2 linked regions of the Homo sapiens genome follow. The protein of the gene in region 1 purifies or fractionates together with the protein of each later gene. This does not show direct contact. Each region holds a gene or a part of one and is shown on either strand. Other genes may lie near its edges.

What was found.
Region 2: the proteins of TIGAR (region 1) and GLTP fractionate together in Homo sapiens (co-fractionation; one large-scale study listed by BioGRID). This does not show direct contact.

The regions. Positions count from the first base shown.
Region 1 is NC_000012.12:4,355,395-4,359,212, reverse strand, and holds part of TIGAR (fructose-2,6-bisphosphatase TIGAR), read right to left. Parts: 3' UTR 1-3,818.
Region 2 is NC_000012.12:109,870,441-109,874,258, forward strand, and holds part of GLTP (glycolipid transfer protein), read right to left. Parts: intron 1-3,818. UniProt on the Homo sapiens protein: Accelerates the intermembrane transfer of various glycolipids. Catalyzes the transfer of various glycosphingolipids between membranes but does not catalyze the transfer of phospholipids. May be involved in the intracellular translocation of glucosylceramides.

The sequences.
Region 1 (3,818 bases):
AATAAGTAGGCAAGAAGGGTAAAGCTGTCTTAGTACAGAATGCCAACTAATAAACATAGAAGCAAAAGTAGAGTCATGGCGTGAGTTGGCTAAAGAAAAAAAAAACAGAGTCAGAAAATAAACAATAAAGGCTAAAAGAGTAGTTGCAAATTTAATGAGGAACCAGACATATTGATACAACGTCCTGTCCCTCCTGACATGACCAAGGACACATCCTTTCTGGGCTGCTTCTGACAAAAGTATACAATCCAAATCTAATAATGAGGATATGTCAGGAAAAAAAACCACAAGAACTCACCTATTTTTTAAAAAGTAACAAGATCAAGAAAGACAAAGTTCATCTGGTTAGATAGATGGTGGGAGAAAAAAAGAAGGGCAAAGGAAGGCAAAGGAGTAGACGGAAGGACATGAAGAAACATGACAACTAAATGCAACACAACACACAGTCCTGGATTGATTGGATTCTTGATTCAGAAAAAAAAAAAAAGCCACAGGTACATCAACAAAATAATTGACAGAATTTAAATTTGGTCTAAGGATTAGCTAATAGGCAATATCAATGTCAAATTTCCTGACTCAGATATTTATTCTGGGTTATATATAAGAACATTGTTGATCTCAGGAAACACACATTGAAATTTTATAGGGGAAGAGTATGAGGACTCAAAGTTACTCTCCAATGTTTCAGGGGAAAACAGAGGGAGAGAGAAAAAATGGCAAAGCAAGTGGGACAACAGGTAAGCAAGTGGTGAATAAGTGTGAAGAGTATACAGCCATTCCTTCTACTGTTCTTGCAACTTTTCTGTAGGTTTGATAAATCCAAGATAAAAGATTACCAAAACACACGCACATACACATTACTGTAATTATTCTCTATGAGGATACAGTAGCTCAGTGATTTTTCTTTTTCTTTTTTTTTTTTTTTGGAGACGCCCAGCTAATTTTTGTATTTTTAGTAAAGACAGGGTTTCACCATGTTGGCCAGGCTGGTCTTGAACTCCTGACCTCAGGTAATCCACCCACCTTGGCCTCCCAAAGTGCTGGGATTACAGGCCTGAGTCACCATGCACAGCCCATTATTTATCAAATGATTTTTTTTTTTTTTTTTTGAGACCCAGTCTTGCTCTGTCACCCAGGCTGCAGTGCAGTGGCGCGACCTTGGCTCACTGCAAGCTCCACCTCCCGGGTTCACGCCATTCTACTGCCTCAGCCTCCCAAGTAGCTGGGACTACAGGCGCCGGCCACCAGGCCTGGCTAATTTTTTCTATTTTTCAGTGGAGACGAGGTTTCACTGTGTTAGCCAGGATGGTCTCTATCTCCTGACCTCGTGATCTGCCCGCCTTGGCCTCCCAAAGTGCTGGGATTACAGGTGCGAGCCACCACGCCCAGCCACCTCAGCGATTGCTTGGTCACAAAATTACTAAGAACCAGGCCTTGAACCTGAATCCAGGCCTTCTGACAATAGATCTTTCCAGTGTCCCTGCCCTGTCACTTATCAATGAAGAAATCACCCCCTTAGGCCATATTGCTGAACAATGAACCAAGTGATTGAGAACTGTGGGGGGAAATCCTAAAGTTTTTAAAGCACTGGTAGTTACCTGTCATGACGACCTACTTAGCCATCTTGTTTGGACACAAAGGAACTGACACATACTTCAATCTGAAAGCTGTACTTCCAAATTGATGGGGCCCAAAGAAAGAGGGGTAAAAAGCAACATTTACATGAAACAAGGATGTTTTCTAGGAGCCCCATTCAATTTCCAAACTGGTAAGTGCTGCGTCTGATAGCAGGTACTCAGCCCAGCACCACCGCTCTACTGAATACTTCTTTCCTTTGCATCTCCTGTGTCTGTGCTTAACAGGGCTGATAATTATGCCAGGTGGATTCACCTAGGATGATCTATTTCAATTAAATTGTGACTGACCTTAATATAGTGAAGACATATAATAGAACCATTTAACTTACACGAATTCATCTACTTGTAAATGTAATATGCATGCAAGTATACATAATATAAGCATATGTACTTAAGTGATATGGCCAAATATTGCACTTCCTGCATAAGCCTAAGCCATGGAATGGGTGTGAGATGCACTGTTCTCTCAGGGATATCTTACTTTATGTGCTTCCCCTAATATGAGCATGTCCTTGCTGAGTATGACATAGCATTTAAAGAAATTAGAATAAAGATGCTAACTAAAACAGGTTTTTAGTTAAAAAGCAATAAAGGAGAATCCTCATCCAAAAATGGAAATGAATAGTAGGTGAGTGAGGAGTGGGAAGGACAGGAAAATAAGAGACAGGTGAATGGGAGCCATGGTTTCGACTCCAGGTGCAAGGGAGCCTAAGCGACAGGCTCTGCTTGAAGCTGCGAGCCTGGGGTGAAGCCTGGAACTGGAAACTTCTGCCCATTCCCTCTGCTAGGCCTCGGACTAAACCTAACAGAAACAGGCAAGACAAGGTGGGAAAGATGAGTACAGGGAACACAGAGGACTTTTAGGGCAGTGAAAATACTCTGCATGATACTATAATGGTGGAATACATGTCTTCATACGTTTGTCCAAACCCACAGATCATGCAACACCAAGAATGAACCCTAATGTAAACTATGGGTTTCAGGTGATGTGGATATGTCAGTGTAATGTGGGCTCACCGATGGTAACAGATGCACTGGTCTGGTGGGGGATGTTGATAGTAGGAGAAGCAATGCGTGTGTAGGGGCAGGGGATAGATGGGAAATCTCTCTACCTTCCTCTCACTTTTGCTGGGAAATTAAAGTTTCTCTTAAAAAATTAAGTCTCTTAAAAAATTCATTTGTTAAAAAACAATCAAAAACCGGGAAAATATTACAAATAAAATATCATTGCATAAAAGACTCAGGCAAAATGAGAGATCTATGACATTCACAGATGGGAGGATGAGAAATCCTAAGCTAACCTAGAAATTCAATGTCCAGGCTCCTTAGTTAGCCATTGGAGGCACTCTGGCCTGGTCCCTGCCAACATCCCTGGCCTTGCTTCTTCAAATGGCCCAACAGCCAGTGCTGCCATCTTCCCTGCCTCCAACCTTGTGCTCCTATAGCACCCCCTACAGCCTGCTCTCCACATTGCAAGCAGGATGGTCCTGCTGAAACAAGTCTGATCACATCACTGCCCAAACTGGCCAATGGCATCTCATCTCACTTGAGTAAAAGCCCAAGGCCTCAGCACAGGCCACCAGGCCATGTGGCCTGTCCTCTTCTCCCGTCACTCTCCCATCCCCCTTGCTCAAAGGAGTCAAGCCTGATCCTTCCTCATGGCCTCTGCACTCTACTCCTTCCATGCTGCTCCTCTCCCCAGAGCAGCAGATCTTACATCCTTCAGTGCTGACACCATCGAGTCCTCCCTGCCCATCCTGGATAAAGCAGCATTCCTCCCACCAGTCTCCATCCCCCTTACTCTGACCTATTTTGCTCAACAGCACTGACCACAATGTGAGCCAACACACTGTCTTCTCTGACAGAACAAATGTTCCACAAGGACAGAGACTTTGTTTTGGTTCATGGCTACATATTCACAGCTTTATCATAGTTGTAGTAGTTCTTAAAATAGCCTGGCATGTGTGTGCCATGCTCAAAAAATACGTATTGAATAGATGAAGAGATGCATGTGACTCCAATAAAATTTGTAACAGAATTTTTCTGGAAATTGACCAATTGATTCCAAAATTTATATGGAAGAATAAAAGTGCATAAATAGTTAAGACAACTTTAAAAATGAACAAGAGGAGGTATCCACCCTTTAAGACAGTCAGCTGCAAAGCCACAGTAACTAAGTAT
Region 2 (3,818 bases), about 110 Mb from region 1:
GCCTTGGTGACAGAGCAAGACTCTGTCTCAAAAATAAAATAAAATAAAATAAAATAAAATAAAAAGAAGGTATTATCATTTATGCTTATTATTATAAATTATATCATCATCACCTTTCCCAACAGACAAAGCTTTTCTTTAGAGAGGAAATCCAGAAAACAATTATTCCAATGATTAAGAAATCAAAGCAGAAGGAGAGGAAGGAAGGGAGGAGGGAGAAAAAGAATTATTGACTCATTGATTGATTGTTAGGGGTAAAATTAGCAGAAATCTCCCCATCATAAAATAATGACTTCAAATGTATTCCAGACCATTAAGACAGAGATCTCAGAAGGGAGTGAAGTAAGGAACTTGGAGGAACAGCAAGGCAGAAAATGAATCATTTCTGAACACAGGGGAAGTGTGAGTCGACTGCCTAACTGCCAGGGTGGAAAGCAGAGGCTTCTAGAAGACCCTGGAGAGGGCTGATCCACTGCAATGACTTTGAAAAGCTCAGATACAGTTAACACTCTAGCAAGAACCACAAAAAAGGCCTCCATATAAGTACCACTGTAAGTACGTAATAAAAGGAGTTAACATTCACTCTGGCAGGTTTTTACTGAAACAATGAAACCTAAGACTAGGACCCAACATTTCCATTCTTTTTTTTTTTTTTTTTTTTTTCTGAGACGGACTCTCGCTCTGTCCCAGGCTGGAGTAGTGGCGTGATCTCGACTCACTGTAACCTCCGCCTCCTGGGTCAAGCGATTCTCCTGCCTCAGCCTTCAGAGTAGCTGGGATTACAGGATTGCGCCACCACACCTGGCCAATTTTTTTTTGTATTTTTAGTAGAGACAGGGTTTTACCATGTTGGCCAGGCTGGTCTCAAACTCCTGACCTCGTGATCTACCCGCTTCGGCCCCCCAAAGTGTTGGGATTACAGGCATGAGCCACTGCGCCCGGCCCCAATATTTCCATTCTAAGAAGCTCATTGAAATAATCACATTGTCATGCCAGCCGGGAACTTCCTATCATTTCCCCTCCTCCCCTACAAGGGACATTTCTGCCCTAGAGACGACTTCCAACGTCTTCCTGTTTCCTGATGTGGTGTTGGTCTCCCCTGTTACAGGGCTAGACCTGCTGTAAAGTCCTGTGGACCACTTCCTACCTTCATGACCTGATCAAATCGCTTCACCTCCCTGCACATTGGTTTCCTCTTCTGGAAAATGGTGCCAAATTCCTCCTAAGTTCATCATGAGGATTAGAAATGAGTTACTGCCTAATTCAATGGCATATCCTGGGAGCCACTCAAAATAGAGATGATGCTAGTTATGATCACGGTCATACGTTATATTTTATAAAGCCCTTTGTCATGAATTCCTCCCATTCCTTTTCACGTGGATATAGGCTGGGCGCCCATGCTGCAGAAGCCCATTGGTGGGTCCTGGGAGGGCCTGACTTCTGCCCCAAGGGATTCACAGTGGAGGGCTGTCCCTCCAAGCATCCCTGTGCAGCAGAGGAGGGGCAAGATGAGTTAGCAAGCAACTGTAGTCTCTCCCCTCCTACTCAATCCTCGTCCTTCTGGCAGCAGAGAGGCCAAACCTCAGGCTCTGACCTCAAGGGCCAGATTTTTCTGAACACAAAGATCTAATCACCACCATCCCAGGACCGGGTGGGCGGGTGCCACTGGTCTGTATGTACTCTGGCCTTTGGACATTATAAAGGAGGCTGCTGGAGCAATTGTCAGACTTAAGCAGCCATGCAGCTGGCTCTGTGCCCTGGCAGTCATTCACCAAGTCAGGCATTGATTTTGGTGCTCCTGCCTGGACTCACCACATCTTTCCAAAGGTAGGATGGATGGCCCTAGACCTTTAGGAAGTGGGCCTTTTGCCACACAGCTGTTGGGAAACGGAGCTGCCAAAAAGAAGCCACCTCGGGGCCTCTCAAGCTCAGGCTGGCTCAGATGGATGCCAGTCTCCGTGTTTCCTTCCACTCATCTGTCCACGGTGTTCAGGGCATGGATGTCAGAGGAAGAGAATCAGACTCAAAGTGACTTCTCCCCTCTGAGCCTCAAAAACAGCCGACTCATGGGCTGTTACACACATGGACAGAAAAACACAATAGGGCCCTCCATAGCCCTCCTTCCAGATTGTTCTCTGGCCAGGTGGGATCAAGAGTGGGACCCACCAGCACGGCACCAGCACACAGCAGGTGTTCCTGAAGGCTAAAAAAGCCTCACTTACTACTTGCAAATGCATCTCCGAAGTCTGCCAGCAGTTTCAAAATTGTACAGCCATTGCAGAAAGTGTCTCTCTGGCTTCTTCCTCCAACAAGACATTATTTGTTTCATCTTCTCAGGGTCCCTCCCAGGCACACAATCTAAATCACATTCCACTAGAATCCAGCTCTCAACAGTCAATCAAAATGATAACTCACCTGCTATATTAGGAGGGTTAATACAGTTTCTTGTCTTTCTTGGGATATTCTTCACCAACCTTGTCCAACCCGCAGACCGCAGGCTGCATGTGGCCCAGGACCGCTTTGAATGTGGCCCAATACAAATTCATAAACTTTCTTAAAACATTATGAGATTTGAGTTTTGTTTTGTTTTGTTTTGGTTTTTAGCTCCTCAGCTATCATTAGCGTTAGTGTATTTCATGTGTGGCCCAAGACAATTCTTCCAGTGTGGCCCTGGGAATCCAAAAAATTGTACACCCCTGTTCTATACAAAACCAAAAATAAACAGGTATTAGCATTAACTTTAAATTTAAAAAAAAAAAAGCAGAAAATATTGTAAGGCTGTGGTAGGTGGTCCCAAATCTCAGAGGATGCTTGTTGCAGTGGGGGAGCTTCTAACTCACAGATCAAGGGGTACAGGTGGGGCTGGTTCCCAGTTAGCCTGATGTCCCAGATGAAGGAAAAGCCAGAGCTGAGGCTGGGCGCGGTAGCTCACGCCTGTAATCCCAGCACTTTGGGAGGCTGACGTGGGTGGATCATGAGGTCAGGAGTTCAAGACCAGCCTAGCCAGCATGGTGAAACCCTGTCTCTAGTGAAAATACAAAAAATTAGCCGGGCATGGTGGTGCACATCTGTAATCCCAGCTACTGGGGAGGCTGAGCCAGGAGAATCACTTGAACCCAGGACGCAGAGGTTGCAGTGAGCCGAGATCGTGCCACTGCACTCCAGCCTGGGCAATAGAGCAAGACTCTGTCTCAAAAAAAAAAAAAAAAAAAAAAAGCAAGAGTTGAGCGCCGTGGCACACGCCTATAATCCCAACTACTTATGAGGCTGAGGCAGGAGGATCACTTGAGCCCAGGAGCTGGAGGCTGCAGTGAGCTGTGATCACCCCACTGCATGCCAGTCTGGGCGATGAAGCAAGACCTTGTCTCTTAAACAAAACACACACACACACACACACACAACCAGCCAACTTGTTTGGGGCTTTTCCCACAAGACGATTTCAACACTCCAGTCATTTTCTAATTTACATTCAAATAAACAGGAGTTATGGACCAGCTTGGCGGGCTGTTTATGAGTTACACACCTCAGAGCAAACCTGCATGTCTGGTCTGTGGCACCCACACCACTTGTCATGTGGACAAGTCACCATGGTGCCAGCAGAACCACTGGAATTCCTCAAGTACCCAACCAGGCTGGCTCCACTGGGGGTCTTCTCCTTTGCCAGAGAGAAAGCCAGGACAGCAGGCATGACAGCAAGAGCACCACATAAGGAGTCCAGAGGACTGAGTTCTAGTCTGGTGCATAAGGTGTCCAGAGGCCCAAGTTCTAGTCTGGCTTTACTGGTCACTCACTGGCTGTGTGACCCTGAGCAAGTCACC